Homo sapiens: one gene and its partners. The gene in region 2 interacts genetically with the main gene of each other region. Each region holds a gene or a part of one and is shown on either strand. Other genes may lie near its edges.

The links.
Region 1: changes in THOC1 (region 2) and RTF1 together harm fitness less than expected from each alone (positive genetic interaction), as found in Homo sapiens cells (one large-scale study listed by BioGRID).
Region 3: changes in THOC1 (region 2) and MED4 together harm fitness more than expected from each alone (negative genetic interaction), as found in Homo sapiens cells (one large-scale study listed by BioGRID).

What each region holds. Positions count from the first base shown.
Region 1 is NC_000015.10:41,419,971-41,423,624, reverse strand, and holds part of RTF1 (RNA polymerase-associated protein RTF1 homolog), read right to left. Parts: intron 1-3,654. UniProt on the Homo sapiens protein: Component of the PAF1 complex (PAF1C) which has multiple functions during transcription by RNA polymerase II and is implicated in regulation of development and maintenance of embryonic stem cell pluripotency.
Region 2 is NC_000018.10:215,966-219,619, forward strand, and holds part of THOC1 (THO complex subunit 1), read right to left. Parts: intron 3,005-3,654; coding exon 2,921-3,004; intron 669-2,920; coding exon 521-668; intron 1-520. UniProt on the Homo sapiens protein: Component of the THO subcomplex of the TREX complex which is thought to couple mRNA transcription, processing and nuclear export, and which specifically associates with spliced mRNA and not with unspliced pre-mRNA.
Region 3 is NC_000013.11:48,088,533-48,092,186, forward strand, and holds part of MED4 (mediator of RNA polymerase II transcription subunit 4), read right to left. Parts: intron 1,887-3,654; coding exon 1,820-1,886; intron 1-1,819. UniProt on the Homo sapiens protein: Component of the Mediator complex, a coactivator involved in the regulated transcription of nearly all RNA polymerase II-dependent genes.

The DNA of each region.
Region 1 (3,654 bases), on a different chromosome or scaffold from region 2:
GGCCGAGGTGGGTGGATCATCTGAGGTCGGGAGTTTGAGACCAGACTGACCAACATGGAGAAACCCCATCTCTAATAAAAATGTAAAATTAGCCGGGAGTGGTGGCGCGTGCCTGTCATCCCAGCTACTCGGGAGGCTAAGGCAGGAGAATCACTTGAACCTAGAGGCGGAGGCTACAGTGAGCCCAGCGTGCCATTGCTCTCCAGCCTGGGTGACAGAGCAAGACTCCATCTTGGGTGGGGGCTGGGTGGGGAGGGAGCTCCCATGGGACTCACTCTTTGAAAAGAGTGAAATTAACAAGCGAATTACATCAAGCTAGATGCAACATGACACAAATTAAAGTTTTCACAAATTAACACTGACACTTCTCACAAACTCTTCCTACACTTCAAAATTTGCCTCTGATTAATGCGGAAAACACTACATTAACAAGAAGCACAACTTTTAAATTTCTCAAGATTTATGGGGAAGGTTTATAGAAGTATACTTTATAATAATAATATTCTTTACATGTAGTATCTAAAAACAGCTCCTAGAAAATACTTACAGGGCTGGCCGGGCACGGTGGTTCACGCCTGTAATCCCAACACTTTGGGAGGCCGAGGAGGGTGGATCACGAGGTCAGGAGTTCAAGACCAGCCTGGCCAAGATGGTGAAACCCCGTCTCTACTAAAAATACAAAAATTAGCTGGACGTGGTGGCGTGCGCCTGTAATCCAAGCTACTCGGAAGGCTGAGGCAGAGAATTGTTTGAACCCGGGAGGCGGAGGCTGCAGGAGCCAAGATCGCGCCACTGCACTCCAGCCTGGGTGACAGAGCGAGACTCCGTCTCAAAAAAAAGAAAAAAGAAAATACTTAGGGGGGCCTATTCTCTCAAAGACAAATTTAATTATTGCTACTTCAAGTTAGATAAACAGAGAAAAACAGGACATGACAATATAATCTCCATTTTAAATAAGAAACCTATAAAATAAAGCATCCCAGTGTGCACATAGCTCAATTTTTAGTTTTTTAGAAAGGTAGAGTAAAATTTTTATAAATACGGAGTTGTACTGATTTGAATTGAGAACTCTGGTTCCTTTATTATCTTGAATGCTTTTCATTTTATAGGACTTACTGCATAAATATTATTCCATAAAGGGAGATGACATAGAGCCCAGAGGTTTGCCTCAAATTATTATTTCCCAATAGGCACCAACAGCAAGTATCTTGAAATTTAAAAATGTTGAAGAAAGGGTGTGGTCAAAATAAGGACAGAGTCACTATCAGGTCAAATGCTAAAAGAAAAGCTTTCAAACTCTCAAACTAGGTCTTAGTTTTAAAAACTTTCAAAGGTTAAAATAAGGCCAGGTGCTGGATCACCTGAGGCCAGGAGTTAGAGACCAGTCTGGCCAACATAGCGTCTCTACTGAAAATACAAAAAATTAGCCAGGTGTGGTGGCAGGCGCCTGTAATCTCAGCTACCCAGGAGGCTGAGGCAGGAGAATTGCTTGAACCCAGGAGGTGGAAGGTGCAGTGAGTCGAGATCGTGCTATTGTACTCCAGTCTGGGCGATAGAGTGAGACTCCATCTCAAAAATAAATAAATAAACAAACAAACAAATAAATAAATAAGGCCTGGTGTGGCAGCTCACACCTGTAATTCCAGCACTTTGGGAGGCCAAAGCCTGAGAATCACCCAAGCCCAGGAGTTTCAGACTAGCCTAGGCAATGTAGTGGGACCCCCATCTCTACAAATGATTTTAAAAATTAGCTGGGTGTGGTGGTGCACACCTGTAGTCCCAGCTACTTGAGAGGCTGAGGGGGAAGGATCACTGAGCTAGGGAGGTCAACGCTACAGCCGTGAGCTGTAATTGTGCCACTGCACTCCAGCCTGGGTGACAGGAGTGAAACCCTGCCTAAAAAAAAAAAAAAAAAGAACCAGTAGTTTTGCCATCTTAAAACCTCCCTGTCAAGTTCTTTTAGTTATACAAGTGCCTTTTTTTTTTTTTTCTTTGGGACAGGGTCTCACTCTGTTACCTGGGCTGAAGAGAAACGGTGGGACCACAAGTAACTGCAACTTCAACCTCCCAGGCTCAAGCAATCCTCCCACCCCAGACTCCCAAGTAGCTGAGACTAGAGGCACGCCACCATGCCCAGCTAATTTTTAAATTCTTTTTTTTTTTTTTTTAATACAGAGTTTCACTCTTGTTTCCCAGGCTGGAGTGCAATGGCACGATCTCGGCTCACCACAGCCTCCACCTCCTGGGTTCAAGTGATTCTCCTGCCTCAGCCTTCTGAGTAACTGGGATTACAGGCAAGCACCACCATGCCTGGCTAATTTTGTATTTTTAGTAGAGACGAGGTTTCTCCATGTTGGTCAGGCTGGTCTCAAACTCCCAACCTCAGGTGATCCGCCCACCTCGGCCTCCCAAAGTGCTGGGATTACAGGTATGAGCCACTGCACCTGGCCAATTTTTAAAGTCTTTGTACAGATGAGGTCTCACTTTGTTGCCTACGCTGATCTCAAACACCTGGGCTCAAGTGTTCCTCCCACTTTGGCCTCCCAAAGTGCTGAGATTACAGGGCATGAGCCACCATGCCCAGCCTATACATGTACGCTTAATTTGGAAGTACTATGGCAGACACAGGAAGCTATTTCTCTTCTAAATACTTATAGTGTGTTACTAAAAAGATTAACCTGCATATAGGCAGTGATCTTAATCACTAACATAAATCATAATTACTTGAGCTATACCTGTTACAAATGCAGAGTCCAGACCTCTATCCCCTGAGAGTCTGATTCAGTAGGTCTAGGATGGGAACTGCTGCACCCTCTAAGTCCCAACCTACATTTTAAATAAGCAACCCAGGTGGCTTCTGACACAGAGGTCTGCCCCTACCACCAGGAAAAACCAGCCTAGAAGGCCCATATATCTCACCTTCAGTAAGGAATAAATTGGAGGTAAAATTTTTGACATAATGGCTCAGATTCCCATCTGAAAAACCCAGGGACAAAAGGCCTCCTTACGAACTGCATTCCAATCCACACTAGATACTCAGTGATCTGTCATGGTTTGTTCCTTCCACAAGTACCATACGCTAGACAGCAAGTCTAATGTTATACCCCCAGTGAAGACTCAGAACCAGATGGAGCAGCACAAGGTATTTGGGGCAGGAAAGATCCAGAATGCATTAGGATTCCTAAAGACCCCCAAGCAGCACTGACAGTGAACTTGTGCTAAAGGTCTTTCGTGAAAATGTCTAGAGGGCAGAGATCTTCCTCTTTGATTATTCTGAGAGTCTGGCATAGTGCTGAACAGACAAACTGAAGGCATCAATACCCCTGTTAGGATGTGCAGGGAAAGGGAATTTTGATCTAGTTCCCATCTGATAACAAGAATGCAAATAAGAAGCTGAAGGGGAGGAAGTTAAATTTGTTGTTAAAATGTATTAGGTATTACACATTTTATGTTAATTTCCTTTTACAAATAGATATTTAGAATTGGATTTAAAATTGCAATTCCGGCCAAGCACGGTGGCTCATGCCTGTAATCCCAGCACTTTGGGAGGCCGAGGTGGGCATATCACTTGAGGTCAGGAGTTCGAAACCAGCCTGGCCAACATGGAGAAACCCTGTCTCCACTAAAAATACAAAAAATTAGCCAGGTGTGGTG
Region 2 (3,654 bases):
ATTTTTTGAGACGGAGTCTTGCTTGGTTGCCAGGCTGGAGTGCAGTGGCGAGATCTCGGCTCACTGCAACCTCCGCCTCCCAGGTTCAAGCAATTCCCTTGCCTCAGCCTCTTGAGTAGCTGGGACTACAGGCACGTGCCACCACACCTGGCTAATTTTTTATATTTTAGTAGAGACGGGGTTTCACCATATTGGCCAGGATGGTCTCAATCTCTTGACCTCATGATCCACCCGCCTCGGCCTCCCAAAGTGCTGGGATTACAGTCGTGAGCCACCGCACCCACAGCCCTGTTGAACTTTAAATTACATGCTGTACAGAAAATTATCAGTTACTTCTTTATCAACTCATGTATTTCCTGTAAATGTATATTCCAATGTGTTTTTCCCTCATTCTAAAACATGGGAGCTTGTGGATCACTGGTTTTTCACATGATTAAGTCAGTTTTTTGCTCACATAGTGACAGCAATTTTAAAGAAGATGTCAACTAAAGGGTATGAAAAGTTGATCTATGGTACTTACCGGTAATTCCTTGGCTAGCTTTATTACCATATTTTCAAGATATTCTGGTAAACTTTTAAACTGCTGGTTGGTTGGCTGGAAGAAGTGAGGGCTTCTCCGTGCTAATAGTCTCAGGGCTCTCCAACCATAATTTGAATTGTTCACAGCCCTATAAAAAGAGGTGTCAGGCTTGTAATTTATAGCTTTGTATTTCTGTATTCCCTTCTGCTCAGTTCTGCCATGTGTAATTCTGTATTTAAGGTAAATAGCTCAAAGTGCCATTCTTTGTATTTGAATCTTATTCCTAAAGAACTTTTCAGTATGTAGTCCACTGATAATAACAAACCAATAGATGCACATGTAACTAATCACAGGAACCAACAATGCCTGAAGAGGCAGGCTCATATGCAGCAAACACATTTTCAAAGTTTCCGTTCATTTTGTTTAATTTTAACAAGTCAACAAGTGTGTGCAGTACTGGCTGGATGCAGTACGTATACAACAGGAATCATCCATCTAGCTATTTGGAATCCATGAACTGTTCCCTAATGAAGTATAACAATGATCAGGGTGGTATACCATCAGGTGAGAAACAAACTGCAGAGAAATTCTAAAGATAATGCGTCAGAAATATGCAATGCTGCGGAAGAAACCAAACCACAAATTTATTCCATTTAAGAGTTTTGGATTGGAAGTCTCTTCCTCCCCTAAGAATAGCAATTTGGTTTATTTGGTCACCTCTTATAAATAAGCATATGTTACCTTTAGGATGTGCAGGTACCACTGAAGACTTAACAAAAACTACCCATAGACACTGGGGACTCTTCCCAAGTTAACACCTGCTGTGAGGCTTTGCCTAAACAGTTAAGAGCCTTCCTCTCTGACATATCTGTTTAGACAATTTGATTATTTTAGGCATTTTCAAAATTCACTGTCAATTATACACATCATTTTTCTTATTCTCCACAAAACCCTCTTTGGAGATAATAATTTGAACTATCACTTTAGGAATGAGTCCACCTAGTCTTATGTAACAGTGATAAATTAATATTCTTTCAATCGACAAACACTTTTGAGCCAGGCACTCAGTAGCTGTGGAGAGTACCTGAGGCACAGTAAGGCAGGCATTGCTAGTGATAAACACACAAGGTATAAGACAATTTCATAAGGATGAGGAAAACTTGAGAAATGAGAAAGTGGTAAGTGCCACCTTCTCATTTGGATAGTGGTAAGTGCCGTGAAATAAAAACCACGAGAATGCAAAAGAGGAGACCAGGGAGGGGAAGAGCTTCCCAGCCAGGGGGACTTTAAGCCACGGCAACCTTGGGGAAAAAGTGGTTCAAGCAAGTGAGACAGTAAAGTGTGAAGGTCCTGACAGGAAAGGGAAAGACAGGACCAAGAGGCCTGCTGTGGTTAAAGCAGAGGGGAGGCATGGCCACACAGGAGAGTATGAGCCAGACCAAGGAGGTCTTTTAGGCCCTGGGAAGGAGTTTGGAATAGGCACTCACTGGGAGATTTTAAGCAGATTAGACTTGGACAATTATTTTAAAGATCACTGGCTGATGCATGGAGCACTGACCACAACTAGAGAGATTAGTTAAGAGGTCACAGTAATTAACAACTCTGGTCACAGGGTCACACTAGTCACAAATACTGAGTGCTAACCACATGCCCTGTAGGGTTCAAAGTGCACTGTCTTATTTAATCCTCAGAATAACCCTGTGAAATGGGTACTGTTACTATTTAACAGATGAGGAAAGGGAACTGGCGGTTTAATAATTAAATTAGCCTTAGTTGCCTAGTAAGTAAGTGGTAGAGGGAATCGAACCTATGCATTCTGACCAGAGGCCTCTTGCCTTTAAACCACTACTCTTCAATTCCTATTTAAAGCCATGAGACTGCGGTGTCACCCAGAAGGTTCTAGATAAAGAGGCTAAGACCAATTCCTGATGTTACTCCAAAATTTGAGTTAGGCAGAGGATGAGGAGGCTGAAATGGAATGTGAGGTGGAGTGGGCAACGAGGGCAAAGGGCAAACAGAAGAACCATGGATTTGGATTCTCATGGACGCCAAGAGAAGAAAACATTAAGGGGAACAGGATAGGTTAACAGCTGCTGTGAGATACTGTGCTTTGAAGGGTAGAGAGAACAGAACTAATAGTTGGAGAGAAATGGGGATCAGGGGGAGTTTTTTTTTTCTTATATTTTGAAACAAGGGTGATTCCAAGTCATGCTTAGTTAACAGGAATAATCCTTGAAATCAGGATGTGTACTAACAAGAACTTGGAACATAAACTCACCTAAGAGAAAAAGCACTATTCTATCTACTGCCTCTCTTAAGAGGCTTTCTAGTATACACACAATTCCTAAGGAAGAAACAAATTGAAGAAAATTAAAAGGAGCTAATGAGGAGCATACTTACTTATATTCATTTTCCACCATATTTTCAGGGTCTGCCTGTTCAATGGCTTCTTCAAAGAATTCCTCCAAAGTGGGCATGTGTTCCCTGAGCGGTACAAAAATAACCAGTGAGGATGGCATATATTCTTAATAATAAATACTCATGAAGTGGTGGCAGGACAAGATTGTGGGCATGTGTTCCCTGAGCAGTACAAAAATAACCAGTGAGGATGGCATATACTCTTAATAATAAATACTCATAAAGTGGTGGCAGGACAAGATTGTGGGCATGTGTTCCCTGAGCGGTACAAAATAACCAGTGAGGATGGCATATACTCTTAATAATAAATACTCATAAAGTGGTGGCAGGACAAGATTGTGGGCATGTGTTCCCTGAGCGGTACAAAATAACCAGTGAGGATGGCATATACTCTTAATAATAAATACTCATAAAGTGGTGGCAGGACAAGATTGTGGGCATGTGTTCCCTGAGCGGTACAAAATAACCAGTGAGGATGGCATATACTCTTAATAATAAATACTCATAAAGTGGTGGCAGGACAAGATTGTGGGCATGTGTTCCCTGAGCGGTACAAAATAACCAGTGAGGATGGCATATACTCTTAATAATAAATACTCATAAAGTGGTGGCAGGACAAGATTCTAATGGCCCCATACTTTTAGTTACAGTTTTGATTACGTGGGAACTCCAGACTTTTAAGGAAGTAAAACCGTCAAAACTAAATTCAAAAAGGA
Region 3 (3,654 bases), on a different chromosome or scaffold from region 2:
TAAAAGCTGTATTATTAAAGCAAGTAGTACACAGTAGTTCCCTGACAACTTTCAAGAAGTTTACACAGGTTGAATTAATTTGTATACTACCCATGAGTAAAAAATATTCTCTTTAGATCTTATTGTTCAGTAGAAAAAAATTATTCAACTAAAGTCAGAAGACCTAGGTTCTGGTTCCACTCACCATTAACCTCTACCTCATCCGTCCACCCTGGAGCTTATTCTCACAGGAGGTTGAACTGAACATCGTTAAGATCCTTTCTAATTCTAAAATTCTATATAAAATTATAAATATCCAAATAAAATGGTGGCTAGAAAATTTTCAAATGGGCACATCCCTCTCTAATAGTAACAGTTTCAATGAAAATTACATAGGAATCCACAGTACTAAGACACAATTCACAAATTGCTACTCTTTAAAAAGTGCAAGAAAGATCAGTGCTGATTATAGGTCTTAATTATCACCTTCTGAATAATCTGTGTGCCTGGCTCATAGCAAGCATTTAATAAGTGTCTATCAAATAAAGTCAAGCCTTGCATTTTACTTCTTGCATACTTTGTATAAATTCCTATTTAATCCCACGGGTATTAACAGAGTACCTGAGAGACTAGTAGTCTTCTATTAACATATTTATCTCTAGCCTCTTTCTTTTTTGAAAAAAAACAAAACAAAAACCTTACTACCCCTAAGGTTAGCTGTTTCTCCTAGCTTGTGGCCTCATCTGGATCCCCTCCTCCCCTTTTGAGGCTCACTGACACTTTTCTATTGAGTCCGTCAGATTTCCCTGCCCTCAAAACGTAAGACAGAACTAAGGTAATGATGCAGACAAAAGATTTATTACTGTCTCCTCTTCTCCTTTACATCATCTTTAGAAAGGTTAATCCTCTCCATTCATTTTCTCTTAAACATTTTTTTTGGCCAGCTATGGTGGCTCATGCCTATAGTCCCAGCACTTTGGTAGGCCAAGGTGGGGAGGATCCCTTGAGGACAGGAGTTCAAGACAGTTCAAGACTGACCTGGGCTACACAGTGAGACTATGTCTCTACCAAAAAAAAAAATTTCTTTTAAATTAGCAAGGCATTATAGCGCATGCCTATAGTCCCAGATACTGGTGAGGATAAGTGGGAGATCGCTTCAGTCCAGCAGGTTGAGGCTGCAGTGAGCAGTCATCATGCCACTGCACTCTAGCCTGGGCTACAGAGCGAGAACTTGTCTCAAAAAAGAAAAAACTGTGCCAAAAACATAATATAAAATTTATCCTCTTACCTCTAAAAAAATTCTGAATCAGGAAAAAAAGTCTGTTCACCCACCATGGAAAATTAGAAAGCACCGAAAAGTGAGCAAATAAAAACTGCCCGTACTTTCACCCCTATAAGGCAATGTCTAATAAGAGTTGTATGCTCTTTTATTTCCCTGCATGTTCAAGTTGCATTAGGGAACTATACTTACAATACACGGTAAGTTTTTGAGCATTAACTTTTGATTCTAAATATTGTTGTAATCTCCATACAACAAGCCTTTCTTGGTTAATTCAAAGGACAAAAATAAATAAACATGTAAGTGTGACTAGAATTGTAAGAGAAAATAACAAAATACTGCTAAACCCTCAGGCAACTATTCTTCTTAAGCGCACTGTTATCTTAAGTAAATGATACAAAGAAAATACCAATATTAAAGTTTTAATTAATAACTTAAAAGGATCCAACATTCCTGTTCCCACACAAAGTAAATATAAAGAGGAAACTTGCAGAAATCAAGTTTTTTTCTTTTAATTAAAAAACAAAGAGAAATTAACTAATTTAAAAAGAAGCCACTTACCTGGTTTTCCTCTCCAGCCTGTAACAACTTTTGGTTTCTTGAAATTGCCAGCATTTCTATAAGTTCCCTAAAAAAAAAAAACCAACAACAACAAAAACCCTTTCACAGCATACTGAACACTCAGGGCTACTCCCTACAGTCCGCTATTGACTGTGAACTACAGCTCACCAAGACTCGCTTGTGCCGGTTACCAAACTTATTTATAAAAGTTCTACTTAATACTATCATTATATAAATAGCTATCACCTAAATGCCAATGAAAGACTATTGTGAATAGAGAGAGTTCTTTCTATAAAAACCTAAGCCTAATGCTTGGAAAGACTCTACAGAGGCTTGCAAAGGACAGCTATAAAGAAAGGACCAGGGAAAAGTCATAAAAACTAAGGGTCTGCCCTAAGACTGCTTGATAAGAGGATAAGTTCTCATTTTGATTTGATCTAGAAATCAAACTACAAATTGCAGACAATGCATTATGAGCGATTTATGCAAGAAAAACTCATACATCAGGGGTCTACAGGCCAAATCCAGCACTTCTGCAGTTTTTGTAAATAACATTTTCCTAAGACAGTCTGCCCATTAATATACAAATTGTCTATGGCAGTTTTCCCTAAATACAGAGGCAGAGTTGAGTTGTTACAGCAGAGACTATATGGCCCATAAACCCAAAAGTATTTATTATCTGGCCTTTGCAGAAAAAGTTTTCTGACTCCTGTCTTACATAACATGATTAGTGAATGAACATATGTTTATATATTTTAAGGTAAAATAAAACAATTAAGGGATGCATGGACCATTTTTTAATGATTCTCCACTTTATTTGAATTTTTTAAATTAAACATCAACTAAGAGGGATCCTTACACATAATAAAATGATATCCTTTTAGAATGCTCATTTAATAAATATGACAATTTCCCTGTATGAAAATTAGTATCTGATGAGCAAAATAAGATTGGGAAAAATGTATAGCAGGTAATGTTTATATATTAGTTTCAAACTTGTTGATAGATGGGACTTTTGAGAAATTATGCAGAAGGGGCAGCTTCACAACTAGCTACCTGACACTGCTCTGATCAGCCTGAGCATTTGTACTTTCTCACTGGCTACCAGGCTATTTTTACCTTCAAATTTCCACCTTCCTTCCAGCTAGCATCATATCATTTTTCTGGATCATGTCAATTAGACCCAACCCTTCCCACTACTACTTCCCCATACCATTATTTATGAATTAATCAATGAATGAAAAAAGTAGATATAAGAATGCAAAGTCTTCATTTATTCACTAATTCATCAAATATTTATTGAGTGCCTATCATGTGCCAGGCACTTTCTAGATACTTGGGGTATCAAAGTGAACAATGGCACTTAAATTCTAATACAAGAGACAAGAAGAACTAAGAGAAGAAATAAACCTAGAGTGATAAGGGTTGGGAAGGAAATAAAGCAATGTTTTATTAGAGACTACTGGGGGAGTGGGTTGGCTACTTCAATAGGGTGGTCAGAGAAGGTCTTCCTAAGGGCACAGCTTTGACATAAGACACGGATTAAATGAGAGAAGTCAGCCAAGATGTCTGGAAGGAAAGAGCACAGTAGAAGACACAGACAGTTCAGTGCCCCAAAGATGGAGCTGAGGAGGTGTAGCCAGGGCCTGGCACAATGGGGAGAGGAAAGCAAAGTGAGGATGTAGCAGCCAGGTGGCTAGGGGTGAGATTACGTAGGGCCTTATAGTTATGGTAAAGATTAGTGTTTCATTCTTTTTTTATTTTTTATTTTTTGAGATGGAGTTTTGCTCTTGTTGCCCAGGCTGGAGTGCAATGGCGCGATCTCGGCTCACCCC